Linked DNA regions of Homo sapiens. The protein of the gene in region 1 interacts with the protein of each later gene in a pairwise test. Each region holds a gene or a part of one and is shown in the gene's direction. Other genes may lie near its edges.

Region 1 (7,207 bases):
GGCAGGGTTGGGAACCCATGGGCCTCTAAAGCAGACTCCCTGGAGGCACCAATATAACCCTTCCCTTTTGGTGTCATAGTTTTCCCCCACTAGGACCCGAATCATCTCTATTTTAGGGGCAAACAATTCTTTCTGCTTCTCTCAAGCATTCGGCCTCTTCCTTCAAATATTTTTTCTTTTTTTTCAGGTTGAGATTCTTTATTCTGGAGGTAGGAAGGGGGTCAGCATGCTCAGGTAGGGAGGGTCCAGCCCAGCTCCTCCAGCCCCCCAGTGCTTGCCCAGCCCCAATAAGTTACCCAGTTAATCAGCTGCCCTCCCTCCTGGGTCCGTCTGTCCTTCTGTTCCACCCTAGACAGGGCCAACCTGGCTCAATACAAGGGCTGCTTGTCCCCAGCCTGTGGGCAGTGCCACATGGCAGGCTGGGGGAGAGATGAAGCAGCAGGACCATGCCCTGGGTCTGGAGGGGCAGAGGGGCCACTTCTGGCTTCAAGCGGTCAGGACTTGGAAAACCACATGCTGGGCAGGCCTGGGGCCCAGTCCCACAAGGTCTGTGCCTGAAAAGAGGTGGTAGTTGGGGTGGGGCCGCCATCACACCTCAATTGCTGGGTCTGAGCCCTGGCCCTGCCGCTGCAGCTGCTCCTTCTGCTTCATCTTGGGCTTCGCTGTCCGTGTATGTCACACCAGTACCCGAGTGCAGTTGGCAGCCCGTGGCTCCAGGTCCTTGGGATCCACAAGGTGGCTTAGAAGACTGCTCTCCAGGTGGCTCCGGGGAGCAGTGGAATCAAACTGGGCATTGGGCTTAGCTAACAGCAAGGGCAGGGCCACAGCAAATCCGGCCATATCCACAGGGAAGGGCCCGTTGGGCTCCCATGCTGTGTGGAAGCCCACTACCCGGCTGTCCTGTACCTGAGGGCCCTTGACTCGCAGGCCACCCACCAGCCCCACAGGCCACACTGAGACACCACGGGTCCAGCGCATCTCCTCAAACAGCTCCCAGCTGTAGGTGTTGCCACTGTCAGCAAAGTACACGACTCCTTGGGTCCCTGGTGGTGATGGGTCCTTCTTCCCACCCACAGCACTCCCTCTGCCCCGGAGCCAGTCCAGGGCCTTGTTCCGCTGCTCGACACCATGGGGATGAACCCAGCCAGGCTTGCCCTCCCGAAGCCGCTGGGCTTTGGGCGTGAGGACCACCAGGTGTGTGAAGAGGAGGCCAGAGGCAGCCAGCAGCCCTGAGACCAGCGGGGTGGGACCCTCAGCATCCTCCACCAGCAGTCAATGCAGCCGGGGCACCAGGCTCAGTGTCTGGGACAGCCGTACCAACTCTGCCTTCTGTACCAGCCTGGCATAGGTGGGGGTAACAACATAGATAGTAGGCAGGGCCTCGGGTTCAGGGGGCTGGGCAGGGGCAGGGGGTGGCCGTCGGAGTTCCGCTTGCAGCTGGGAAATCCTCAGATCCTTCTGCCGTAGCTGCTCAGCTGCTGCCCGCAGGGGAGGAAGGCAGTCACATGGCTGGCCAGCGCGTAGAGGAGGCCGGCGATCGACACCAGGAAGTAGGCGAGAAACACGTTCTTCACCTTCAGCTTCATGGCCACGCCGCTGCCGCCTGCGCCCCAGCAGGCGGGGTCTCTCAAATATTATTTTTCTCCATGGGCTCAGGCTTTTTGGGAAACAACAGCCAGTAAGTCTAGTGTGAGGTTCTTCAGTTTTCTTGCTACATACATAACCGTTTTGAGGTAAGAAAGCACAGAGGGGAAAACAGGTGAAAAACATTAAAGCTCAGAAACATTTTCAGCCATATTAATTCAATTCCAGAAGCAATTAAACTTTGTTTAAAGACAATAATTTAATAGAAATATAGTACATTTACTGCTATGGAAAAATAATTCATAATACGTTGGGTTTTTTTGTTTGTTTTTGAGACAGGGTCTCACTCAGCTGCCCAGGCTGGAGTGCAGTGGTGTGATCATAACTCACTGTGGCCCTGATTTCCTGGGCTCAAGCAATCTTCCTGCCTCAGTCTTCCAAGTAGCTGGGACTACAGGTGTGAGCCACCACTCCGGCTAATTATTTTATTTTTTGTAGAGCTGGGTTCTCACTTTGTGGCCCAGACTGCTCTCAAATTCCCGGGCTCAAGCAGTTCTTCCACTTTGGCCTCCCAAAGTGCTGGAATTACACACATGAGCCACCACGCCTGTCCCACATGTTGTTTTGACAGGAAGTTACAAAGATGTCTATCAGGATGACTCCAATGTTTAATAGAAAATGTACATAAAGTCAAAACGAATATTTACCACCATGAAACAGTAGCTACCACTACAATTCACACTTCATAAGCAACCTTTTAAGGAGCTGAATTGGTGAAGCTATCTGAGATTGACTAAGGCCTAATATTGCCTTACTTTCTGCTTTATATCTTTAATATTTTCTGTAATTTACTGAATAAAAGCCTAGGACCTGGATGTACTGCAATGTGCAGTATATAGAGCTCATAGCTTTTTTTTTTTTCTGGAATGCAGTGGTGCCATTTTGGCTCACTGCAACCTCCGCCTCCCGGGTTCAAGCGATTCTCCTGCCCCAGCCTCCCAACTAGCTGGAATGACAGGTGCCTGCCACCATGCCCGGCTAATTTTTGTATTTTTAGTAGAGACGGGGTTTCACCATGTTGGCCAGGCTGGTCTCGAACTCCTGACCTCAGGTGATCCACCTGCCTTGGCCTCCAGAAAGTGCTGGGATTACAGGCCTGGGCCACTGCACCTGGCCTAGAGCCCATATCTTTATTTAGCACATTAGTAAACAAAATGACTTTATAGTTATTGGAAGTTAAATAATTCAAACTTAAAGCTGTTGGAACTTTATTCCGAGCCTTGGGAGGAATGTGGCTACAGCCTGAGTCAAGCAGCAGGCATCTGCAACGTCTGCCTTTTGTTTCTATAAATAATTAAAATAGGAGGACCAAACCATACCAGAGATACAACCCCCTGAGATCACTACCCCCCCTCATGGAGTAACAAAATACTTTTTCTTGGAATGTAGTAATCTGTAACCTACCAAATAGCTGTAAGTATGCACTGGTCTCTTAGGGGAAATGAAATCCTGTTAAAATTTGTCTCTGGCCACCTAGGCGAAACCCTAACTTCTTCACTTTGGAATGCTAACCCCATTTGGAGCTGGTGTCTCCTGGGTGGCTACCCTCAAGCCTTACGCTGGAATAAACTCTATCCTTAATCATATTTCCAGAACCTCACTATTTAAGGTTGACAGGAGAGGGAAGCGGTGATGTCTTGAGATAAAGCTGAATAAAGTTTCTCAAGAAAAAAAGGGAAAGGAACCTCTAAGCTGTACGTTGTTTTCTAACTCTAGGGAGTTAGAGGTGAAGTAGGAACTTGAAGTTGGAAGTGTTGAGTTGGACAGCCCTCATCTCTAGGCAATACTTTCATAAAGTGGAAAAACGGGGGAAGAGGACGAAGGCTAGGGAGAGACGCAGGGATCTACCCAACCCAGTCCTGAGTTTCCCACTCGCTCTTGGAGTTGAGTACAAAGAGCGCTCCAAAGCCCCTTCTCCTGTGCTCAGCCCAGTGCTCCGGTGGGTCAGGTCTCCGGAATGCGTAAACAAAAGCAAACAGCTGAGCGGCGGAGGGCGCAGGCGACAGATGTGGGTGTTCCCTGAGAATGTGTGGCGACTTCCCGGAGCAGCGGGTCTGTGAGGCAACGATGGAAGACACTGCGCTCCACAGCATAGCAGGAGGCCCCGCCCCGTGTGGCGCCAAGTAAAAGATAATTCCTCAGAAGCCGTCGGCCACCGGCGCTTCGCCTCGTCCCGCGCCAGGCCCAGCCTCTCCCCCAGACCACCGGTGCCATGCGGATTCCCCAGGCGGGACCCCAGCTCACGAGGCCCACTGGCCGAAGCTCCCCACAGGATAGAGAGCCGCTCCTGCGAGGCCAAGCTTCCGAGAGGCGGCCTGCGCCTAGCACGCAGGCGCGGAAAGCTGGGCGCCAGCCTTAAACTGACTCCCGCCACCTGCCTCGGGCCGCGCCGTCCACCGTTTACTTTCGAACGAGCCCAGCAATAGTTCCCATTGGCCGATGCCTTGCAGTTGAATGTTGCCTGCAGACTGCGCCTGCGCTGCGAGGCTCCGCGAGGCCCCGCCCGGTCTGGGCACCTGAAGCCCTTCGGGGCAGAGGAGGGCGGGGACTCGGGGCGGCTCTCAGCATCCGCCTGGAGCTCGTGGCGCTGTGTTTCCGTGCTGTGGAGTTGCCTGGTCCGCTTCCTCCCCGCGGTGAGTCTAAGGACCTTTACGGATGCGGAGAAGGTGGTTCTGAGTCCTTTTTCTTTTCCTGTAGCACAGTCTGGTGTGCCTAGTGTGTTGGGCGGGGAGTCCTGGGGGCGCGACGATGGAGGGAGTGGCTTGGGACCTGCACTCATTCCCTCTTGTCCCATACTGGAGTTTGGGGAGCCACTTTCCCGTCCCTCCACTGTGGAGCTGCGTTCCTGTGAGGGAGGAGGCCCTCTGTGGTGGCGAGGGTGAGCTGAGCGGACGCCGCCGAGTCGGTCAGTCCCGCGGGGTTGGGGACGGGCGGGTGCCGAGGTGGAGGCGCGTTAGGAGGGAGGCCTGGGAGAGTGGAGCTTTGAGAAGGGGAAGGGAAGAGTACTGCCATTTTGAGCCCCTTTGTGGGAGGTGCTCGCAGGACTTAAGTGAGGTAGGTGCAGTTACCCATTTTACAGATGTGAAGCCTCACTTTTGAGAGGTATTTGGTAATACTGACCCAGGTCCCACAGCATTGAAATGGCAGAACAGAGAGATGAGCAAACTATACTAAATCAGTTATAATTTAGAGCTGGCAAGGTATTTTACTCCCATGGATGCTTTTGTCTTGCAGTTAATTTTAAGCACTCTAAAATGACCGTGAATGTTTTTTCTGCCATCACCATTGTTGGGTAATATTGTCGAGAGCTCATAAGCTACTTGACGTTGTGAAAAGAGGTCCTTTGTGACAGTCTGTTTGGTCAGAGTTAGGATTTTCAAGGAACAAGCGATACCTCTACTGCAGCTCCAGCAACTGTGTTGGTGTTTGTGGCTTTTCTGAAAACACGATGAAGCATCGTGAAGATAAATATCAAAGACAGTGAACTAACAACCATTTTTATGACATGAGACAATAAATTGAAAACATTAAAGATAACATTATTTTAATTTTAGAATAAGAATAAAAGATTCTGGAGGAGTTGGAGAAGAGTGTATTCAGCCCCCAAACCACGAGATCAACAAAGTAGGTAATCTGGGAGATTAAATAAATATGAAAAACAATTAAGTTTTTACAGAGTGTATGATTTAAACTACAAAGTGAAATTTAGAAGTCTTTTGAAAAAACATTGTGTTGGCGGTGTATAAAACTCCAACCATTTTATCGAAGGAGCGGAGCATAAAGTGAAAAATAAACAACTCCCTTCTCTGATCTGTACCTTAAAAGTAGTCACTTAACTCTTTTGTACATCCTTCTAGAAATTTTACAAGAATGTGTACATCTCAAAACACATGCAAAGTTGTTATTTTATACATACAGATCTGCAGAACTACACAAAACTGCAAATTAAGTTACCTGGATACTTTTTCACTATGCATTCATGTATTGGTCTTTTTAAATGAGTAAGTAGCTATTTAATCTGGCAAGGTGAAATTTTGATTTTAGGTGATGTTAGTTTTGACATTGCCTTTCACTAAACACGTTGATGAATATTTCCCACCAGATATATTTTTACTTTGAAAAGTACAGCAAAAGCAATTAAAGCCTTAATTTCTCAAGTCAATTCCGGTTAAATTGAATTAATAGTCTTTTTTTGTTTTGTTTCTAGTTTTTATTTTTATTTTTTAGTTTAGGGAAACAGGTTGATATCAAAATGAAAGAAAATAGTACAGATGGACAAAGAGATTTAAAATCAGCTGACCATAGGATTTTTTTAATTTGAAAAAGTTAAGGTGATCTCTCACTATTTTTGTATATTTATATGTGACAGAATTATTTTTAAAAATCTTGTTTCTCAGACTTTCTGCGATAATGTTAAAAAAATCTTATATATGTTTATAAATGGTGCAGTTGTAGTTATTTCTTAAGTAAGTCTTGACTTGCATGAAATGTATTTCTTCTTTATCAGTTAGGTCCACAAAGATGTGAGCCCCAGTTTGGGTGGTGGCACCACTTGAATTTTCCCATACTTAAAGCTGACTCACTAGAAGTCTTGGGACAAGTCATCGAATTCTATAATGTAATAAATATATTTTCCTTTCAGAGGTTGTGAAATGTAATGAACGTTTTACAACTGTTCATGTTTAGAGTTGAAAGGCAGGAAAGCATTAGTGAATTAAAACTTAAAAACTGGTTTACACAGGAGAATGGGTAATGATATTTTCGGTGCTATTTAATCATCTATTATACTGTCTATTACCTAATATGCCAGTTAGACATCAGGGAGGCTCACTAGTGAATTGGCCCTCTGGAGAAAGACTTAATAAAAAGTTTGGAAATTCAGAAATGTATTTGTTTTGACACTTAAACACACTAGACATTAGTGAAATAATTTGTAAGTAGAGTGATTTAGCCTCAGGTTTCTTTCTGAGAAGATTCATTTTTTTATATTAATATTTCTCGGTTTTAAAAGAGAAGCAGGAAATCTTGAACTTGGTTTTTACATGAGCTTAGTACTCACTAGAGGAAAATACATTTTACATGGATTATTTTACTTTTTTGCTTTTTAAAAACATACAGTAGTATAAATTGATTCAAATTCATTTAGCAAAAGGAAGACTGGATAATAGGCAAGACGCTTGAAAATTTTTTAAAGTTTTTTTTTTATTGTGTAAAATATGCTAAACATAAAATTTACCATTTTAATCTTTTTAAGTATGCAGTTTGGTGGTATTAAATACATTCAAATTGTTTTGTAATTATCACCATCAACTATCTCCGTTAACTTTTTCATCTTCCCAAACTGAAACTGTGTACCCATTAAACCAGCAGTCCTCAACCTTTTTGGCACCAGGGACCGGTCTTGTGGAAGGCAATTTTTCTGTGGACGGGTGGGGGTGGGTGGTGCATGGTTTTGGGATAAAACTGTTCTACCGCACATCATCAGGCATTAGTTAGATTCTCACAGTGAGCCACAACCTAGATCCCTCGCGTGCGCAGTTCACAGTAGGGTTCACGCTGTTAT
Region 2 (7,030 bases), on another chromosome or scaffold:
GTACTAGGCCTCTGTGAGCTGGGTCCCTTTTGATTTTGGGTGTGTGTGTGTGTGTGTGTGTGTGCACGCGCGCGCGTGCTTTGAACAGCTAAGAACTTGGAGCTGCCTCCGTTTCTGTCAGTGGTTGTTAATTCTGGCCTGACAAGGCTACTTTTTTCTTCCTGCTGTCTGTATTTAGGATTACAGGTGGAGTAAAACTTCGGTGGGGATTTAGAAAATTAGGGCAGTTGAGAAATTAGGGCAGGTGGGGAAGCTTGCTCAAGCCCCAGATACTAATTTCCCTGAGACCAAATCACCCCCAGTGTGGCAGGCTCAAGGTTTTTTGTTTGACCTTAGGTGAAGTTCTTTCTGGGGCTCACCAAGAGGGTAACCACATACGTTTTTTCCAGAATGTGGTAGTGTCTCAGACTTCTACATGCTTTCTTTAGAAGCTGAAAAAGAAGAATGTAGTCATCTAGGCAATACCACTCTGAACCTGCCTGATCTCAGAAGCCAAGTGAGTCAGGCCAGGTTAGTACTTGGATGGGAGACCACCTGGAAATACCAGGTGCTGGAGGCTTAAAACGAAGAACAGAATAGCTTATTCATGGTCCGTCAATCCTCAGTACCAGTCTAGTGGGAATCTTCAGTGAATTAACCTTTTTCTAGGGCTGCAGAGTTTAGTTGGTTTGCCCATAGCACTATCGAAGTTACAGGCTATATGCATTATCAGGTAGCTCCCACATCTGGGCTGCCACCTTTCAGAAGTTGATAGTCCAGGAGGCACATGGACCAGTTCAGATTCATTACAAACACAGGGAAAGTGCTCCAGTATTTTTAATCCATCTTTCCTTGCCTCGCGTAAGTGTAAAAGGCAGTGGAGTGGGGGTATTGTGATCCTATTGATTGGATTTCAGGTCCTGCTTTAGTCTGTGACCTTGAAAAGAATCATTAGCTTCTTTGGTTCTGTCTTAAAAGGAATGAAAATTATTGCTCACTATATCCCTTCTAACATGGGGAAGGTGATGAGGAATATGCTGGCAATGAATTTATAATGGAAAAAGTCTAACATTTCTCTTCCATACTTCTTTCAGAATCGGCTACAGTCTCAAAGGGCAATGCTTCTGCAGGGCACTGAAAGCCTGAACCGGGCCACCCAAAGTATTGAACGTTCTCATCGGATTGCCACAGAGACTGACCAGATTGGCTCAGAAATCATAGAAGAGCTGGGGGAACAACGAGACCAGTTAGAACGTACCAAGAGTAGAGTAAGTCTGGGCAGACAGGGAAAGGGGCAAGTATGGGGTAATTAGGGGGCCACTGCACCTGGAAACCGTACTAAGGCCAAAAGCTACAGCAGTTCTGTATTCAGGGAATAGTCTTTTTTAAGTTCTTATGCTTTTCTCAATTTTTATTTATTAATTTTTTTTTTTTTTTTGAGATAGAGTCTCACTGTGTCACCCAGGCTGGAGTGCAGTGGCGTGATCTCCACTTGCTGCAACCTCCGCATCCTGGGTTCAAGCGATTCTCTTGCCTCAGCCTCCTGAGTAGCTGGGATTACAGGCATGCGCCACCATGCCTAGCTAATGTTTGTATTTTTAGTAGAGATGGGGTTTCGCCATGTTGGCCAGGCTGGTCTCGAACTCCTAACTTCAGGTGATCCACCTGCTCCGGCCTCCCAAAGTGCTAGGATTATAGGCGTGAGCCACTGTGCCCGGCCGCTTTGCTCAATTTTTAGTTTGCTTGGCTGAGAGATGTCCCTTAGAAGCAATTTTACCCCTAAGATTTAGACATCACTGGAAATTTTTGCTTCAGTGAGGGGAAAAAAAGATGGAAGGACCTGATTTCTACACTTACAAGATTACAGAAATTAATAAGGATAAAGTGGCTGCATTCTCTCTTTGGCAAGAGAAATAATATGTCAAAAGGCACTTAAGGATTCAAAGCTTCCAATCTGAGATTTTAATTTCTCACACATCTAATAGGGTATTCTGCTATTCTTACGAAAACATCATCTGCTTATATCCTGTTATTTAGAGCCAAGGCTGTTTTCCAGATTTCATAAAATAGTACCACAGTTTATAGATTTATAAATTATGCTTCAATCCTGGACTATAACCCTTTACTGTTATGTAAGTAAAAGTAAAAAAAAAAAAGTAATAGGGAAAAAAATGTCTAAGGATTATCCAGTAAGGTAAGCTGGATCATTGTGGAAAGAAAACAAATATTTAAATCAAATGATGACTATATCAGGGATCTCTAGTCTGCTGTCACTCTGAGAGCCTCAGAAAAATAACTCATTTATTTTTTCCTTTCCATAAATGAGTTAACCTACATAGGAATTTTTTAGTTTTTTAGAGACAGGGTCTTGCTCTGTCACCCAGGCTGGAGTGCAGCAGTGCAATTTTAACTTACTGTAGCTTCAAACTCCTGGGCTCAAGTGATCCTCATGTGTAGCTGCGATACAGGCATGTGCTACTGTGCCTGGCTAATTGTTTTAATTTTTTGTAAAAACGGGGTCTCATTATGTTGCCAAAGTTGCTCTCGAACTCCTGGGCTCAAGCAATCATTCCACCTTGGCCTCCCAAAGCGCTAGGATTACAGGCATGAGCCACTGTGCCCAGCTGGAATTTTTTTTTTTTTTTTTTTTTTTTTGAGATGGAGTCTTGCTCTGTCGCCCAGGCTGGAGTGCAGTGGCGCAATCTCGGCTCGCTGCAAGCTCCGCCTCCCAGGTTCATGCCATTCTCCTGCCTCGGCCTCCCGAGTAGCTGGGACTACAGGCGTCTGCCACCACACCCGGCTAATTTTTCGTATTTTTAGTAGAGACGGGGTTTCACCATTTTAGCAAGGATGGTCTCGATCTCTTAACCTCATGATCTGCCCGCCTCAGCCTCCCAAAGTGCTAGAATTATAAGCGTGAGCCACTGCGCCCGGGCAAAATTTTTTAATTGGTACAATTTACCAATGGAATGCTGTATTCTTAATAGCAGAAGGCAAATCAATTTGAAAAACATACTGTGGCCAAGATTTGGACAGGAAAATACTAGCTCAGTGTGAAGATTTGAGTAGATTTTCTTAATAGCTTCAGTTCTCCATTAAGTCAGAGTAATGCCCTGCCCTCTTCAGTGAAAATTCACAATAAAGTACTACATTCAAGGCAAGCTATGGAGAATGTAACTTGCTTACAGATTGTGTGGGTTTTGGTTTTTGAACATACCAGGTAGATTGGTTGAATTTAAAAGCCAAGGAGGCCGGGCTTACACCTGTAATTTTAGCACTTTGGGAGGCTGAGGTGGGAGGATGGCTTGAGCCTAGGAGTTTGAAACCAGCCTGGGCAACATAGCGAGACCTCATCTCTAGAGCGAGACCTCATCTCTATAGCGAGACCTCATCTCTACTAAAAATCAAAAAAAGGAGCAGGGTGTGGTGGCGTGCACCTGTGATCCCAGCTACTTGGGGACATGTGGGGTTATTGCTTGAGCCTGGGAGGTCGAGGCTGCAGTGAGCTGCGATTGCAGCACTGCACTCCAGCCTGAGTGACGGAGTGAGACCCTGTTTCAAATAAATAAAAGCCAAGGAACGAGCTGAGAGGTCAGCTTACCAAGGCCACTGGGGAATGGGAACAGATGGCAAGTAGCCATCTGCTGGAGGTGAAATATCCTCCAGCTGTCCAGATTAGTAGCAAGCAGTTGAAAGTTCCATGGAGGTTAATTCTTTTCACAGTTCAATGTAACTGTCTCTTAAGAGGGTAAAGAAAAAAACCAGATCCCAAAAGCAGTAACAGACCAGCCTACAAAAACAAATGCCAACTCAAGAGGCTGTCCTGGAATTTGGCTGATGAAATTCAAATCTTAAGTTGCTCTACAGTCACTGGCTGGCCAGTCTGCTGGCTACACTTGAAGCCTTCCCTTTTGGAGTAGCCACGGTAGAAGATTAGCTCAGTCTCAGGAGTCCATCCCCAGCAGCAACCTGGGAAGATGATTCTTAAGCCTACTTGATGAGTACTAAAATATCTTGTCCTTTCCAGGTTCTTCTACTTACACTCAAAGGCCATCATTTAAATTGGCTTGATTTCTTGGAATTTTTCAACATATATCCCTTAATGCCTACTGTTAATCTAGGGATATTCAATTGTACAGAGTATACTTTTTAAAGAGGGAAATAATCACTATTTTCTCTTCTCAGCTGGTAAACACAAGTGAAAACTTGAGCAAAAGTCGGAAGATTCTCCGTTCAATGTCCAGAAAGTAAGTTTTATTAAAGTCATGAAATTTCTCTTAACTCAGTGGCTTTCAACCAAAAAGCTTAAAATAGTGACTTACAAAGGTCCTCATAAAGCACCTCAGCAGTTGACGCATAGTCCCTGTATACTCAGTACCACCCAGCAGACCAGAATAAAGACGCTAAGGAATATGGTCTTGGATAATTAAATAACTCAGGATAAAATCATTTGTTAAAAGTATATACTGCTTTGACTTGGAGCAGTGAAAAATTTCTCCACTGAAAGGACATTTAATCACAGCTGATGTTCTTTAGAGAAGGCAACACATGGGAATAACAGCTTCCTATTCCTTGAAATATATTTATATAATCTCAGCCCCGTGCGGTGGCTCATGCCTGTAATCCCAGCACCTTGGGAGGCTGAAGCGGGCAGATCACAAGGTCAGGAGTTCAAGACCAGTCTGGCTCAAATGGTGAAACCCGTCTCTACTAAAAATACAAAAAAATTAGCCAGGCGTAGTGGCGGGCACTGTAATCCCAGCTACTCAGGAGGCTGAGACAGAATTGCTTGAACCTGGGGGGTGGAGGTTGCAGTGAGCCGAGATGGCACCACTGCACTCTAGCCTGGGGGACAAAGCGAGACTCCGTCTCAAAAAAAAAAGAAATATATTTGTAAAATCTTGATTAGAAAGTAGTTTTCACTTGCATAGTACTTGCTTTTGGCTCTGCTTGCCCTTCATGGGAGTCAGCTCCTTTTCTGGAAGTTCTATATTGTAGGGAAGAAGTAGACTTTTAAAAATAAAACCCTTGTGGAGTTGTCAGGGTTCTTGGGCAGTAACTGAGTCAAGATGCTGCAGAATCTGCTGGCACTGTCAGGTTGCCCAGAGGACCATGAGCATTGCTTCATGCAGGCATTTTGAAAATAAAGGTCCAGAAAACACAAGCTGTTTCAGGAGAAGAATGGAATTCCAGTGCATCTAAAGGGTGGTAGAGCTGATGACCTCCTGTATAGAGCCACCATGGTTCTCAGTTAGTGAAACAGCATATGCCATGCATCAGCTGGCTGTGGTTTCATTTCCCAAGAAATGGGATTGACTTCAGTCATCACAGCAGTGACTTGATTCAGTTTCATTCAGCTCTGTATGGACTCCTAGTCCATAGAGAATAAATAAGTCCTTCTTTGAAGACAATATTTGAATTGTACTAACTGCCACCAATACAGTAGTCTTTACCAAAAATAAAAAACAAAATCCTCGAGTGCTAACAGCAACAAATCCAGGGCAGAAATACTGCCACTGAGGTTGAAGTTGGGGGTAAGAGGGTATTGTACGTGACCTTGGGCACAGGTGGCCTAGCATGAAACAAAACTACAACCCACTCATGGAACTAGCAGGAGGGGTGGGATTTTCCTACAGTGATAAATTCCTTGTGGACTAGGGAGAAACCTAGAGTGAACATGAGAACCAGAGGTTGGATTCTTTATGTAAACAACAGATAGGAAAATTTTTAAGCTCCTATACTACCTTTATAACATACCCATTTGGGTTGATAGGAGAGCAAAGGGAAAAATAGGGCAGAGGGAAGAAGTTTACAAGGGATTGAAAGGTATTACCCAGGCTTCTAGTTACTTATCCTAGGGCAGGACCCATCCTGAGCTGGATGTCTATTTGATTACTTTTTCTAGCTAACCCTTCTTTCTAGAAAAGCTATTTTTAAAGGAAGTAACTACTATTTGAACAACATTTCAGAATCCATTTTTATGCTTTGGTTTTTATTGTCTCAGTTTAACATTTCTGTGAGGTAGACAGTGTTATCCCTAAGTGACAGCTAAAGAACCTTATGAGTACTTCCTGCTAAGTGGCTGTGTGATCAAACATACAGCCTCAGAGTATCCAGCCGTGGTCCCAGGTCTAACCCCAAAATGTTTAGAAGGAAGGTTATCCAAACTTCTGACTACTCCCCACTTTGCTTCTCTTTGTAGAGTGACAACCAACAAGCTGCTGCTTTCCATTATCATCTTACTGGAGCTCGCCATCCTGGGAGGCCTGGTTTACTACAAATTCTTTCGCAGCCATTGAACTTCTATAGGGAAGGGTTTGTGGACCAGAACTTTGACCTTGTGAATGCATGATGTTAGGGATGTGGATAGAATAAGCATATTGCTGCTGTGGGCTGACAGTTCAAGGATGCACTGTATAGCCAGGCTGTGGGAGGAGGGAGGAAAGATGAAAAACCACTTAAATGTGAAGGAACAACAGCAACAAGACCAGTATGATATACCAAGGTAATAAATGCTGTTTATGACTTCTTTAAATTTACATAGTACTGTAGCATATTAATACCCTGTGAACTGCAAAAAACCAAATACATTTACAGTAGTATTGGTCACCAAAATAGAGGGGAAACTTTACAATTGTGAGAATGTGTAAATGTTCTCATTAAGGCAGTATTGACCCAGACAACCATTTAGTATTCATCTATCCCCTCAATGCCTCATAATTCTGGAATGCCTGTTGTGAAACATGTCAGTGCACAGTGTCTCCTAAATTCTCACACGTGCTTGATTTTCTGATTCATCTGGTGAACTGGGAGTAGGAAGTTGGTCATAGACAATATGCCCTCCTTCTCTTGTCTGACCAAAGCTTGAAGCAATCACATCTACTGCCAGGTTAGCTGTAGTCTTCGCCTCTTCCTCTGAGGTGGCCAACTGAGGATTGACTTCAACAAGATCCAGTGCTGATAGCAACCCTGGAAGAACAAAGTGTGACAAAACCTCAGGTTCCCTTGCTGCTACTCTCAGTGAGGGTCATCCCACTGGGACAGGGAGAAC
Region 3 (6,912 bases), on another chromosome or scaffold:
TCCTGCTAATTTTGCAGCTGGCTTTATCTGTGTCTGTCCTCCTTGTCTGATTAGTGGCAGGGCTTCTTTTCTCTTTTCAGTCCAAATTGATTCTCACTCTTTTAATCCAAAAGAGATTTTAACTCTTTCAGCATCCTAGACTCAACTCATCAGAACATTCACTAGGATGCGTTTTCCTACTAGCACTTAACCAAGTGTAAGAATCTCAGGTTCATCATGATTTAATTGAATAGAAACTTCTAGAGCCACCATCAAACAATCCAAAGTTGAGGTAAAGCAATGTGGCCTAACAGGTTCCAATGTAGTATACTTAGAACCTTTCCAGATGCCCCACTACTCTGCCTTTTGATAATACCACTGCCCTCACTAATAGTCTTTTCCAGCTTGGAGCAGGTCATCACCTTTTGCCAAAAGCCTAAGGACTCTTCATTGGGAATAGCATTGTTTCTGAGGCTCACCATGCTTGGAATCTGTTCCACATTTCCAGCCCTCTCTCTTTCCATGTATCCTACCTTTGAGCCACACCAGAGGGATTCTTGCACTTTCATTTCTCTATGTTTTTGCTTACACTTTCCTCTGTCCTGAAATTTCTTTCCCTCCTTTCCCCCAATCAAAATCCTATTCTCACTTGCCTGATACAGGAACCATTCTCCAAGAAGCCACCCTTGAACTATCCCATGGAAATTACTAGTTTCTTCATTAGCACTTCCATAAAACTTTCCTTGTAACTCTGTTTAGCACTGCTATTGTTTTTTTCTCCTAAGCACACAGTCGTTTTTGTTTGTTTGTTTTGCAGTTTTCCTTGATATTTGGGGAAAAATGTTTATTTTACCTACTCTCTACATTCTAGGGATATTTCTTAGCCTGAAGTTCCTGGCTTCGCTGTGATCCTTTGGAGGCATAGGAAGGTGGGGCAACTTGTGAAACTTCATATATATAAATTTCATATATATAAATATATATGTTCCTGTATGTGTGTGTGTATATATGTGTGTGTGTGTGTGTGTGTGTGTGTATTTGTGTATATGTGTACTTTGCTGGGGTCCACAACTTTCATCAGATACTCAAAGAGATGTGTAACCCAAAAGAGAAGAGGTTAAGAACAACTTTTAGAATATTAGATTGTTATGGCACAGGCACTCTGCCACTCAAACAGATGGGAGAGACAACTATAGGCAACCAAGAAATCATGAATGTGCATCAAATATGGGTGCTTAAGGCATGGTACCCAGCTGGGCAGGTGGAGAATGCCATCCATCCAAAGCTGCCAAGGGCTATTAGCCAGTACTGATTAAACTCTGGACTGCACTGATTTTTGGAAATTGCACTAAAATCCAGATCCTCCCTAGTCACGGCACAGAAGCACAGGAGTTGGCTGTGTTTACCCTCATAAATGCCCTGAGTGTGCCTTTGTTAGAAGCTTGGTTGGCAGTGGCAGCAATGCTACTTGTCCTTGTCTACTTTTTCTACTTCCAGATAAATATTAGTTTGATTAATAATCACATTTCAGTTTGTCCCAGGCCCCATGAAGTAGATTAGAATTCTGGAGGGAAAAAATATGGTACGATCTATATCGTCTTTCCATAATATACCCAGTAAATAGAAAATCTTTTCAAAAGATTACCTGATGCCACATCTCCCTCACCCCCTTATTGTTACCCAGGTGCCTGAATGTATGGGTTGCAATACAATATAACCAATGATTAGCATGAATGATAGAACCAGATGACTTGACCTTCAGTGTAAGGGATAGGCAGGCCTTTGATTATACTCATGAAATGCCCATGCTAAAAAGGTTCATGTTTTTAAGGATGTTTCTCCTGCCTCTTCTCTCCTATTCCCTTGCTTAAAAATTCTCTGTGGAATTGATTTGGCTGATAAAAGACAGGCTAACTTATTTTAAAAAGGGACTGAAAAATCCATGCACTTCCAATTGTCATGTGCAATCATGGACCTGTCAACTAATTCTTATTTTGGCAGTTTTGAGATCACTTGTCACAAATTATTCCCTCTCACAGGGGTATCTGAAGAGAAAGCAAAATAATATGCAATTCATGTAGCTGGATTCAGGTGGAGGGGATTCTACTTTTAATATGCAATTGGGTAGCTGGATTTGGGTGGGGGGGGGATTTTACATTTAATATGCAATTCTGGTAGCTGGATTCGGGTAGGGAGGAGTCCACATTTAATATGCAATCAGGTAGCTGGATTTGGGTAGAAGGGATTCACATTGAATACGCAATCAGGTAGCTGGATTCCGGTGGGAGGATTCCACATTTCCTCTTCCTTCAAAGTGATTGTTTATATGAAATATCTCCTTCTTTTCAAACAGAGAAAGTTACAAAAATCCTACTACATCAAATGATTTATGAAAAATAAAGGTAATTCTATCAAAAGCAATCGTGACTAGTCTTTCAACCTCGCTATGCATATATCGGGGAGTGTATTTGTTAACCTGAAAGGCAATAAAATCTGCTTATGGGTAAATCAATTCCTACCACTGGGTTCTTTTGGGAATATCTAGTAATCTAGGTCAGTAATTCTAAAACTTGAGTGTGTATTAGGATCACCTAAAAGGCTTGTTACATCACGGATTGCTGGGCTACACCTAAACAGTTTCTACTACAGTAGATCTGGGATGGGGCAAAAGAATATGGATTTCTCACAAGTTGACAGGTGATACCGATGCTGCTGGTCTAGGGATCCCACTTTGATAACCACTGACCAAAGTTTTTAAGGTCACAAGGTGTTTATAATTAGTTCAGAAACCAGGACACAACATGTTTAAAAATCCTTAGCAATACAAGGTAATATGAGGCCCCAAACAGGCAACAATGTGCACTATATAAGGGCAGTGGTGAGAGAACTCTGGTTTGGCAAGATTTCCACTCTCAAATCTGGATAGGGTTAAGATCATCAGAGAGCAGGGCATTCTAGAATGGGGAAATGAACCAAATTAGTTGGAGCTAAGACTGGAGAGGTAGGTAGGGATGTGTCTGTGGAGGGCTTTTAAGCACATCTTATAAGGAATACAGATTTTATACAACAGGTAATATTTCTTCCACCAACACACTGTCTCCTCCTGTGGCACGTGGGCAGAAAGATCTAGCTCCACATTACTGCAAACGGTTTAACCTTCCCCAAATACTGTTCAGCCGGAGTGAGGTGGGAAAGTTAGTAGATCTCTGGTGTTTGGTGAAGATACCAAGTTAGACTGAGAGGTGGATTACTTGCATCGCTGAGTCCAAAAGTTGTCGGCTTTTGCAGGGATGGGAAAGCAGGAAACTTTTGGAGGTCTCCCAAAATATAAGAAAAGATTGTTTGGGTGTGGATTTAGGTTGAGGACAGGAACAGGAAATATCCTGGGATGTCTGAGGCAACCCAATAGAGGGTCTGAAGTGGACGAGACCATGCACTACAGTGCAATGCTTTTCCATCTTTACGGTGCACCCCAGGAGTCACCTGGTGATCTTGCTGAAGTGCATGTACTGATTCAGCAGGCCTGAAATTGTGCATTTCAAAGATTGTGAGTTCCCAGAGGATGCTGATGCTGCAGACCGCGCTTTGAAGCAAGGTACCATGGGACATCCCAGAACACCTGCGGGGAGAGAGGCCTGCTGGCCACATCCCCCGAAGAAAGGATACATGCAATCTTTTAAGCTAAGGCCCCCATCCTGTCTCTCGGGAGAGGTGAGCAGTGAGGATATGGGGACAATGAGAAGGACGGCTCAAGTAGGGCTGGGGAGGGGCAGAGGCGCCCAGGCGCGCCAGGTGCAAGCGCTCTGGAGAGTGCGGTCTGCCTGGGTCCGCGGCTCTGGGGCTGCGGCGCGATTGCAGGAGTTTCGGCCCTCAGCGGCTCCCATCGCGGCTCCCGGGAGCTAAGCGAGACGGCGACGGCGGCAGTCGTCCCTCCCCACGCGGGCGCGCGGGCATGCGGACACCCACTCGGCCGGTCCAGGCCCTCAGGCTCCCGGAAGCGGAAGGGGAGAGCGGCCCGGCCTGGGCGGCGGCGCCGGAGGAGGCGGAGGTGGCGCGGCAGGAGGAGGGGAAAGAGCTGCTGGCGGTCGGGAGAGCGGCGGCAGCGAGAGGCGAGCCAGCGGCGACGGTGAGTGTGCAGGCGCGGGGGCGAAGCGGCCGCCCCCACCCCCATCCCCATCCGCACCCCCACCCCCATCCCCGGCCCCCGCTCCGCTCTGCCGGGCCCGCCCGCCGCTCCTCCGCGCCGGGACGCCCTCACCTGTTCCTGCACGCCCCCTGCACCTGCTCTGTTTGGAACCCGGGGGTTTCTCGGTGCCTCCCCGCCCCAGGCCTGGCCTTTTTCAGAGCGTCTTCTGCTAGAGCTACAGCCCCTTGCTAAGTGCTCCTCCCTCAACTGGGGGTGGGGGGTTCCTGCTCTAGTCGAGACGATGTTGGCTAGTTATTTATTTATTTATTTTAAATCTGTATCCTGAGTTTCTCGCTTGTAAACTACAGTTTCTCTCCCCGCACCCCCGTCTGGAGACCTGCACTGGGATCCCGGGTTTCTCTGTGCTATTCCAGAGCTTTTCATTCATTCCAGACTTCTGGTGTGAAGCTGCAGAGAGGACAAACAGTTTGCTCCTTTATTGACCTTCTCACTCCTCTCCTCTTGATCCAAAGAGGTTTTCGGAAAATGGCTTATGGATGGCAGCAGTTTGCACTTGTTACTGTTCACTGTAACAGGTCGCTGGATTGTAACTGCAGAGTCCATTTAAGTTACGGTCTTTTTCAAGCTATATGTGGGTCACATTTTAAGATCCCTTGAGAGTCAGGGTGGATGTCTGTATCACCAGGGCTGAGAGGACATGACCAATTATTACTTTAAAATATTGCAATATAGCAGTCTCTAAAAGTAGAAGAGAAAAAAAAATCAAGGTCATTGTGGGCGGGTCATAAATTATATTGTAAAGTTACAGTCCAAAGGCGACTAAGGATAATTAAGTGCAATTTAAAAAGATGTGTTAAATAGGTCCTCAGCCTACTATGCTAATATATGCACTTTTAAAAATTCACTGCTTTCCTTGTGGTAAGAATAATATTAATAACAGTCACCATTTGATGACTGCTTAGTATGCGCCATTCCTGGATTAAAAGGCTTTTGGTGTAATATTAAATTCTTCCAACTCTTTAGATTTTACTTATTTTAAAGGTAAAATTCGGAGAGATGCTCTGTTTTTCCTTAGTTTGTGCCATCTCTTAAAAGCAAAAAGATATTTGAAGAATTGAGGTGAGAAATCCACTGGAAAGAAAGAGCCAAATGAGATTTGGTGTCGTGGAAAGAAAAACTAGATTCTAGTCCCATTTCTGTCACTATCCAGCTGTGGGTTTACAGGTAGGGCAATGACCCATGTTATTTTCTCTATACCATCAGAGAGCCAGACTAAATTATTTAAGGCTTATTTTAGCTTTTCCATGCTTACTTGGAAAATGTTTTTAAATAAGACCCTTTAACGTGGTTTGAAGGTACATTAAAAACATATACGAAGTATTAGTAAAATATGAAAATATAAGTTAAAATGTATAATTCCATAATTGTTTTGGTGTAGTACTCTTCCAGAATTCATCATTTTCGATGGAAACAATTCTATTAGATCCTTTGACACTACTGAGATTTCTGTTAACATACTTGAGAAGCTGTAGTTGGAATAAATGAAATAGAGCGTCATTTAAAGAAAATGATGAGGACCGTGTCACTTTTGCCTACGAGGTACTTTGTTTAATAAGAGAAATCTAAGCATTTAAAAATGCAGACATATAATCAGCTTAACAGGAAGTTCTGAGACAAGAATCAATGAATCATAACATGTACTTCTTATTTGCCTACTGCCTCATTTCTTTAATTCGTAATGACCGATTCAGAACCTGTGGAAAAATGCATGAATAAAATAATGGTTTTATAAAATGTGACCCACATATAGCTTGAAAAAGACCGTAACTCAAATGGTCTCTGCAGTTACAATCCAGGGACCTGTTATAGTGAATAGTAACAAGTGCAAACTGCTGCCATCCATAAGCCATTTTCCCGAAAACCTCTTTGGGTTGAGAGGAGAGGAGTGAGAAGGTCAATAAAGGAGCAGTTTATTGTTTGTCCTCCTGCTAGTCTTATTATATAGTGGTTTAGTAAAGAAACTGCTTGAGAAGTTGAGTAATGTCTCAACATGGAGCTGTTTTTCTGGAATTGTAATTGAATGTGACTCAGTGAAAACTTTTTTAGCATAGGAGGTGACACAGTGGCAGTATCAATACTACCAGGCAAAAGAGGGAAGGCAGAGGAAAGGCTGTTTTTATTGCCAAGAGTTTGTTCCCTAAATTCAGTTTTACTTTTATATTAAGGAATGTAACCTTTTATGTTGTTTTAGTAAAACATTAGGGCTCAGATTCAACTTTTCACATGCATTAAATATAATAGGCAATTTAGCATCTAGTAGAATAATCAGTGCTTAAATAACTCTTATTAAAGGTAAAAATACAGGTGAAATTGTAAAACAGTTTTTATTGTTGAAAGTGATTTGTTAAGAATTCTTGATAAGTCAAGTCAGACTAGTTTAAAAAGCACATTTTCATAGACATGTGAATCATCACTGTGCTCATTGATAGGTCCCTGAACAAAAATACCTTAGTATGATGGTACTTTATGTGTTTGTTTTGCTCTTTAGACCTAACCTAGGCAAAATTGTGACATTTTTGAAGTTTGCCTTCTGCCTTTCAAGCTGCTTTTTCCTCTGTGCTATTTCTCTCAGGGTAGATTAACCTTCTTCCCCATTTCAGAGACTCTCTTAACCGATGTGTTGCCCCTTCTACAAAAGGGCAGGTTGGGTAAAATTGATATTTTACCATTCACTGGTGAATTTTATTTTAAATCTAACCTAAAATGCTCAAGTGTGATGTCAACCA
Region 4 (7,691 bases), on another chromosome or scaffold:
GAGAGGCCTCTCTCCTTGGCTTGTAGATGGTACCTTCTGACTGTGTCCTCACGTGTCCTTTTCTTGTGCAGGCACAGAGAGAGAGAGTTCTGGTGTCTCTTCCTCTTCTTATAAGGACAACAGTTCTATTGGATTAGGGCCCTATCCTGCCCTAATAACTTCATTTAACCTTAATTACCTCCTTAAAGGCCCTGTCTCCAAACACAGTCATTTTTGGTGTCAGGGCTTCAATATATGAATTGGGGTTGGTTGAGGGAGACACAATTTAGTCTATAACAGATTATTTCTTCAATATTATAAAAGTGAATTCCAGATGAATTAAAGACTAAATATTAAAAATAAAACTGCAAGATTAATAAAAGAAATGAAGATCTTTGTGATCTTGGAGTAGAAAATTCTTAGTAAACAAGACCCTGAACACAAAGTATAAGGAGAAATTCTGGTGAATTTAACCATATCAAAATTCAGGAGCTATTTCAATGAAGGTCACCATAGATAAAGCTAACAGAAGGGTTTATATAGTACAGTTGCCTCATCTATAACCCATCTGACAATGGCTTTATTATCTAGAATATTAAAAGAATTCCTGAAAAATCAATAAGAAAAGGATAGGAAAATTCAATAGAATACTGAGCAAAGGCCATGAACAGTCAATTCACAGGAGGGAAAACAAGATTGGCCAGCAGGGCATGTGGAGAGATGCTCACCTTGTTGATAATCAGAAAAATTCAATGTAAAATAGCAATATCGCTTTATAGTTCTATCAGATTGACAAACATTAGAAGGCTGAATAATGACATGTGTTGTCTAAGACGTAGGGAGACTCTTATGCACTGCTGGTAGGCACACATGGTGAAACAGAGTGCAACCTGAGTATCCACTCAGTAAGTGTGTATGTGCCCTGTGATCTAGTGATCTCAGAGACCCCGATGGGTCCACAACTAGATACGTATGAGGGTGTTCACTTTGGCATTATTTATAGTGACAGGAAGTTGGAGGCAACCTAAGCATCTATTGCAGGAAGAAGGGATAGGCTAAATGAGGTGGATGCACACTATGGAATTCTATAAGCAGGAAGAAAGAGGGAAGAAAGAGGGAAGAAAGAAAGAAAAAAAGTGGTGCACTCTACATCTTTCATCAAGACAGTGTTAATTATAGTGAACCCCAAGTTTCTCTTCAAAGAATCAGTATGTCAGTATGTTCAGCTCTCTTATTCTTTGATTATCCATTTTAAAGTTTAGCTTCCTGGTTCTCTTCCGTTCCCTTGCTCCTGGTTTTAGTAAACAACTTTCCCTCTAGTCCTAATCAGTAGTTCACATCTGTTCTCTGGTCAGCTGCTCCATCCTGACTCATCCCGTTTATCTGCTTTGACCTGAGTCATCCCAGTCACCTGCTTTGACCTGAGTCACCCTGGTCACCTGCTCTGATCTAAGTCACCTTTAGTTCCCTGTTCCTAACTGTCCTTCCCGCCAAACTACCCACCCCGCCACTCTAACTCATATCCCTGCTCTCTTTAAAATAGCCAATCGGAATTAGCTTAGGCTGTGCGGTCCAACCCTAGCCAATAGGGGAACGCCACAGCAGTAGGGCCGTGTGTCAGGAATAAGAACTCCTTCTCCTCTCCTGTCCAGGTGTGCTCTTGCCATTGTTCCATTCACGACTCGCACCCTTCTATAGAAGTAAAAATTGCCATGCTGAGAAAATTAAATTTATGTTCGAGTGCTATTTCCTTGCAGCATTGAAAATTTATTTACAACAACAGCATGAACTTTTTTCCTAGAATCCCTATCCATCAGACTTCTGTTTGCATTTCATTGGCCAAAACTGCATTACATGATAACACCTAACTGAAAGGTAACTAGAGAGAAGGGGAGTTATGAACAGGGATTGTGTTAGATAATCAGAGATGTCTGGTTTATCATCTGATAGATTTTTTTCTAACTGCTGTATAGAATTCCATAGGGTGCATCTATCCCATTTTGCTGTGATGGCTAGAGGTTTAGCAGCCATCTTGTGCCAAGGAGGAAAAGTCAAGAGAATCCCAGAGAAGGCCCTGACAAGTTTCTTAACCAACATCAACAGTTTCCTATTCCTGAACTTTTTATCATGTATTAAAAACAAGCACCTCTTTGTTTAAGCTACATGTGTCAGAGTTCAATTGCAGACAACAGAAATAAATCTGGACCTGGTGCAGTGGCTCACGCCTATAATCCCGGCACTTTAGGGGGCCGAGGTGGGCTGATCAACTGAGGTCAGGAGTTCAAGACCTGCCTGACCAACATGGAGAAACCCCGTCTCTACTAAAAATACAAAATTAGCCGGGGTGGTGGCACATACTTGTAATCCCAGCTACTGGGGAGGCTGAGGCAGGAGAATCACTTGAACCCGTGAAGCGGAGGTTGTGGTGAGCCGAGATCGCGCCATTGCACTCCAGCCTGGGCAACAAGAGTGAAACTCTGTCTCAAAAAAAAAAAAAAAAGAAAGAAAGAAAGAAAGAAAGAAAGAAATCTGATCAGTTTAAACAGAAAGGGATGGAGAAGCAGGCTTAGGTCCAGGAACAACCCCCAGCTTTGAGAGTCACATGACCTCTGCCTGTGATTGAGAAAACAACAGTCACTACTACAGGAAGCTGATGAATCAGGAAGCTGCTCACCAGAGCCTTGCTGCTGCTGCCATGACCTGTGACAGCAAAACGGATGTCCCATGCTACGTAGCTCTGTTCCAAATTTATATCTTGCACAAGAGCAGGACGCAAACCACAGAGTCATAGCTCAAGGGAATCTGGGAAGGGTTGTTTTAGCTTTCCAACTTCTGCAGCGCAGAAGAAACACTGAAAGCAGTTTTAGATTAATGTTGAGGAGCCCGTCTATTATGGACAACATACCATTCAGCTTTTTGGTTACTAAAAACCAAATGCACATCCAACTGATACACTGCACCTAAAGCAATAAGGATGGAGCTTAAGTGAAAAAGAAAAAACTAACAGAATAAGTTCTATAGCACAATTCATAACATGTTAGTTAAAAACACATACAAGCAGAGCATGGAGGCTCATGCCTGCAATCCCAGCACTGTGGGATGCCAAGACAGGAGGATCACTTGATGCCAGGAGTTTGAGACCAGCCTGGGCAACAAAGTGAGATCCCCATCTCTACATAAAAAAGTTAGACAGGCGCGGTGGCACACACCTGTGTGCCTCCGAGAAGCTCGTAGCTTCTCGGGAGGCTGAGGTGGGAGAATCACTTAAGCCCAGGAGTTTGAGGCTGCAGTAAGCTATGATCATGCCACTCCACTCCAGCCCAGGTGACAGAGTAAGACCCTGTTTCTAAAAAGAAAAAAATAAAATAAAAACACACAAATCAGTACTATCTTTTTCAATGAAATGTACATTTTCAAGGATATACAAGTGCCAGTTGGTAAAGGGTGGAGGAGAATGGGATGTGGGGATTAAGGGTGAAAGAGAGAAACTAAAGAAAGTAAAACAAAACAAGAGAGAGGTCTTGTACAGTCTGATGATGGGAGTGATACCAATGGGGGAATATCATTGGCTCCATTTTCTACATCTGTGGACCAAGACCAATCCATCAAGCTTAATATGTAATATAAATATTAAAGAATATTTTGATAACAATTTATCATTATATTAACAGATCATTTAATTTAAATATTTCATATTTAATTTATCACACTGAAACTAATCTATTAAATTTCATACATCATAATTTCTGGCCAATCCCTCCCTCACTACTGCCTGCCGCACTTTGTGCCCCGACTGCCCACCTGCACTAGACACATAATGTCGGTACTCACAATTTCGTTTGTTTGTTTGTTTTGTTTTTTGAGAAGGAGTTTCGCTCTTGTTGCCTAGGCTGGAGAGCAATGGTGCGATCCCGGCTTACTGCAACCTCTGCCTCCCGGGTTCAAGTGATTCTCCTGCCTCAGCCTCCTGAGTAGCTGGGATTACAGGCGCCCACCACCAAGCCCAGCTAATTTTTGTATTTTTAGTAGAGACAGGGTTTTGCCATGTTAGCCAGGCTGTTCTTGAACTCCTGACCTCAGATAATCCACCCGTCTTGGAATCTCAAAGTGCTGGGATTACAGGCGTGAGCCACCCCGCCTGGCCACAATTTTTTTTTAAAAGGAGGTCTCCCTCTGTTGCCCAGGCTAGAGTTCAGTGGCGCGACATCGGTTCATTGCAGCCTCGACCTCCCGGGCTCAAGCGATCCTCCCACCTCAGCCTCCTGAGTCGCTGGGATAACAGACGTGAGCCACCGGGCCCAGCTCTATACTCATAATTTGACAATTATGTTTTTATTTCCCCAGAACCTCAAAAAATAAGTTCAGGTGACCCCCCTGGAGACCCCACCCCAGGGTCATTCTGAGAGTACCAACCCTATTTAATGAGATACCTGCATTCACTCACCCCCTCTCCCGCAACCACCCCTTCAGCAAGTCGCGCTCCACCCAATTAGGAGGGGCTTTAGGCTGGGCCTAAAAAGTTGGGCCAAGACCCCACGAGGCAGCATCTCCGCCGGCGTCCCCAAGGCTGAGAGTGGGCGCGTCCGTCAGGAGGAGTCGTCTTTGTGAGCCCGCCCCGGCGGGGAGGAGCTGCCCGGCTCAGGCCCCGCCCACCCGGAGGATCTTGGGGCTGGTCTGAGTCCGCTCCTGAGACGTGACCACCCGCCCCGCATGGGGCCCCAGTCCCAGCTGCTTGATCCGGCTCAGCCCCGAGGTGTTTGCAGCAGCTCTTTATGAAAGTCCAGCCATCTGTTACCTGCGTTGCTTCCTGGGGAGGGATAGTCCACCTGGAGGCATTCGGAGACCCAGTGATTGTGCTCCGCGGAGCCTGGGCTGTGCCCCGCGTTGACTGCCTCATAGATACCCTACGAACCCCAAGTAAGAAAAAACGACGACCCTCTCTCCGTGAGTCTCACTGGGGTGCTGACCTAGAGTGAACCCTGCTTGCTTAGGGCTCCTGACCCAGCGCTTGTCCTTTCTCAGGGTGGATGGGGCGAGACCCCTGCTGGGATAAATGTTTTCCCTGGGGCAAGGGCTGTGCACTTCGCAGCTGCTGGGTCCCCTCCCTAGGATCCAGGGAGACACTCACTACTCCTCTCCATTCTGTGTTTTAGATGCCAGCTGCATGAGAAAAGGGACTCACCTTCTGGTTCCCTGCCTGGAAGAGGAAGAGCTGGCATTGCACAGGAGACGGCTGGACATGTCTGAGGCACTGCCCTGCCCGGGCAAGGAGACCCCCACCCCAGGCTGCAGGCTGGGGGCCCTGTATTGGGCCTGTGTCCACAATGATCCCACCCAGCTCCAAGCCATACTGGATGGTGGGGTCTCCCCAGAGGAGGCCACCCAGGTGGACAGCAATGGGAGGGTGAGATGTCCTGGCTTCCCAGAACAGCTGGGGGCATCTTTGCATCCCCACCACACCGTCCTGGCCTGGCTCCCTGAGAGGGGTTCAGGGGCAATACCTCCTGCAGTCCTAAGGAGGAAGGGAATGGTTAAGGGCGGGTCTTCACGGGGTTTGGGGCAGGCTCTGGGACAGATATGGGTTTAGAGGGTGCAAGGGGCCCTGGAGTGGCCCAGGGGGAAAGCAGGGGATCTGAGCTGCCCCTCCCTCAGACAGGCCTCATGGTCGCATGCTACCACGGCTTCCAGAGTGTTGTGGCCCTGCTCAGCCACTGTCCTTTCCTTGATGTGAACCAGCAGGACAAAGGAGGGGACACGGCCCTCATGTTGGCTGCCCAAGCAGGTGTGAGGCTGCTGCACCCCACTTCCGACAGCCCCCTTTTGATGCAGACAGGGCCTCAGCCCCACCCTTGTTGCACGGTGTTCTACACCAGACTCTGTCATGCTGGGTGGAGGGCGGTTTGGGAGCTTCATCACCCCCTTTCCTGGGGACCAAGCTTACCCTTGCTGCCCTGCAGGCCACGTGCCTCTAGTGAGTCTCCTGCTCAACTACTATGTGGGCCTGGACCTGGAACGCCGGGACCAGCGGGGGCTCACGGCGTTAATGAAGGCTGCCATGCGGAACCGCTGTGAGTGCGTGGCCACCCTCCTCATGGCAGGTGTGCGGGGCCTGGACCGGGGTGTGTGGCCTCCAGTCCCTCCTCCAAGCCTTCCCACCAGACACTAAGTCAGCTGTGATTATTTGCAGAAAGGAGAGAGGTGGAGATGGGGGATCAATCTAGTTCACCTTCCTGGAGGGGGGGGCACATGATTTGGGCTTCGTACAATCAACCAAGTCCTGCTATTGATAGCTCAGACATTGTGTGTGGAGGTCCCAGGAAGGAAAGTGTGGGAGGGGAACCTAGCCCAGCTGGAAAATCTAACACGAAAAAAGGCTGGCATCTGGAACCAGCCCCTGTTCCTAGCTGAGTGGCTTCCCTCTTTGGGCCTCACCAGTATTGTGAGGGTGTTAGCTTTCCCTGGGACTACCTCCAACTCTGACAAGCCAGGCTTCCAGGGGATCCAGGGAAGTGTCGTTGAGGCCTGTGGCTCTGTGGGGTCGTTCAGGGGGAGGTGCGGTGAAGTCCACATTGTCCATGGAGTTGTTTGGGGGCCCTTCTTCCCCGCAGTGGGGCTGCCCTCTGCTGGTCACTCTGGGGGACCCCTGCCTCCATTTTTCCCTTCCCCACACACCCCACTGGGTTTGGAGTGAAAAAGGAGTGAATGAAAAAGGAGGGCGCTCTACACCCTTTCTTTTGTCTTAGAGTGACTGCTCCTCCCACAACCCCAAGATGGGAGAGGGAGATGGTGAGAAGAGAAGAACCAGGAGAGGGAACCAGCCGATCATCCCCACCCACCTGCCCCAGAGGGTGCAGCTCAGGCCTCTGCCTGTCCTGGGCAGCCTGCACCGCTGCTCTGCTCAGCTCCTTGGATTGAGGAGATCCCTATTCTGCCCTAGGTGGAGCCCCACAATAGGTCTCTCTGAAGTCTTTTCCCCTCTCTGGACCTAAGTGTCTTAATCTCTCTTAAACAGGAGGTTGCAACACTGGCCTCCCTGATTCCACCTTCAACAGGATGGGACTCTATGGCTTCGAATGTAACCCACATCAGTCTTGCTCCTAAAGAATCTGCCCTTCCACAAATCACCAACCCCTATCCCGCCCCATGTCACCCCCTGTGCTCCTTCCCAGGTGCTGACCTGACAGCAGTGGACCCTGTTCGGGGCAAGACGGCCCTGGAATGGGCAGTGCTGACCGACAGCTTCGACACCGTGTGGAGGATTCGGCAGCTGCTGAGGCGGCCCCAAGTGGAGCAGCTTAGCCAGCACTACAAGCCCGAGTGGCCGGCCTTGTCCGGGCTCGTGGCCCAGGCCCAGGCCCAGGCCCAGGTTGCCCCTTCACTCCTAGAACGGCTGCAGGCTACCTTGAGCCTCCCCTTTGCCCCGTCTCCTCAGGAGGGGGGTGTTCTGGACCACCTTGTGACTGCCACAACCAGCCTGGCCAGTCCCTTCGTCACCACTGCCTGCCACACTCTGTGCCCTGACCATCCACCTTCGCTGGGCACCCGAAGCAAGTCCGTGCCAGAGCTGTTAGGTACTGCCCCGCCCCCTCCCCTGGTTCCCCAGTCCCCGCCAGGGAGTCCCCAGAGGTCCCCGTGGGTCTTCGTCCCCTACCAGAGCCCTCAGGGCATATTGAGCAAGTGCCTTCAGTGGCTACAACCCAGGGATAGCACCA

Evidence for each region.
Region 2: the proteins of TRIM59 (region 1) and VTI1B interact in binary tests that used the Homo sapiens proteins (3 or more experiments, as listed by UniProt).
Region 3: the proteins of TRIM59 (region 1) and ZDHHC21 interact in binary tests that used the Homo sapiens proteins (3 or more experiments, as listed by UniProt).
Region 4: the proteins of TRIM59 (region 1) and ANKRD33 interact in binary tests that used the Homo sapiens proteins (3 or more experiments, as listed by UniProt).

The regions. Positions count from the first base shown.
Region 1 is NC_000003.12:160,446,787-160,453,993, reverse strand, and holds the start of TRIM59 (tripartite motif-containing protein 59), read left to right. Parts: upstream 1-4,207; 5' UTR 4,208-4,277; intron 4,278-5,198; 5' UTR 5,199-5,268; intron 5,269-7,207. UniProt on the Homo sapiens protein: E3 ubiquitin ligase involved in different processes such as development and immune response. Serves as a negative regulator for innate immune signaling pathways by suppressing RLR-induced activation of IRF3/7 and NF-kappa-B via interaction with adapter ECSIT.
Region 2 is NC_000014.9:67,650,633-67,657,662, reverse strand, and holds part of VTI1B (vesicle transport through interaction with t-SNAREs homolog 1B), read left to right. Parts: intron 1-1,073; coding exon 1,074-1,247; intron 1,248-4,164; coding exon 4,165-4,226; intron 4,227-5,954; exon of another isoform or gene 5,955-6,181; coding exon 6,182-6,278; 3' UTR 6,279-6,742; coding exon of another isoform or gene 6,743-6,948; 3' UTR 6,949-7,030. Other genes in the region: ARG2 (arginase-2, mitochondrial precursor), read right to left, coding at 6,743-6,948. UniProt on the Homo sapiens protein: V-SNARE that mediates vesicle transport pathways through interactions with t-SNAREs on the target membrane. These interactions are proposed to mediate aspects of the specificity of vesicle trafficking and to promote fusion of the lipid bilayers.
Region 3 is NC_000009.12:14,690,422-14,697,333, reverse strand, and holds the start of ZDHHC21 (palmitoyltransferase ZDHHC21), read left to right. Parts: upstream 1-3,901; 5' UTR 3,902-4,105; intron 4,106-6,912. UniProt on the Homo sapiens protein: Palmitoyltransferase that catalyzes the addition of palmitate onto various protein substrates. Palmitoylates sex steroid hormone receptors, including ESR1, PGR and AR, thereby regulating their targeting to the plasma membrane.
Region 4 is NC_000012.12:51,883,436-51,891,126, forward strand, and holds the start of ANKRD33 (photoreceptor ankyrin repeat protein), read left to right. Parts: upstream 1-4,667; 5' UTR 4,668-4,751; coding exon 4,752-4,896; coding exon of another isoform or gene 4,897-4,923; intron 4,924-5,132; coding exon 5,133-5,383; intron 5,384-5,631; coding exon 5,632-5,761; intron 5,762-5,936; coding exon 5,937-6,047; coding exon of another isoform or gene 6,048-6,145; exon of another isoform or gene 6,146-6,722; coding exon of another isoform or gene 6,723-6,724; exon of another isoform or gene 6,725-6,991; coding exon of another isoform or gene 6,992-7,054; exon of another isoform or gene 7,055-7,148; coding exon 7,149-7,691. UniProt on the Homo sapiens protein: Acts as a transcriptional repressor for CRX-activated photoreceptor gene regulation.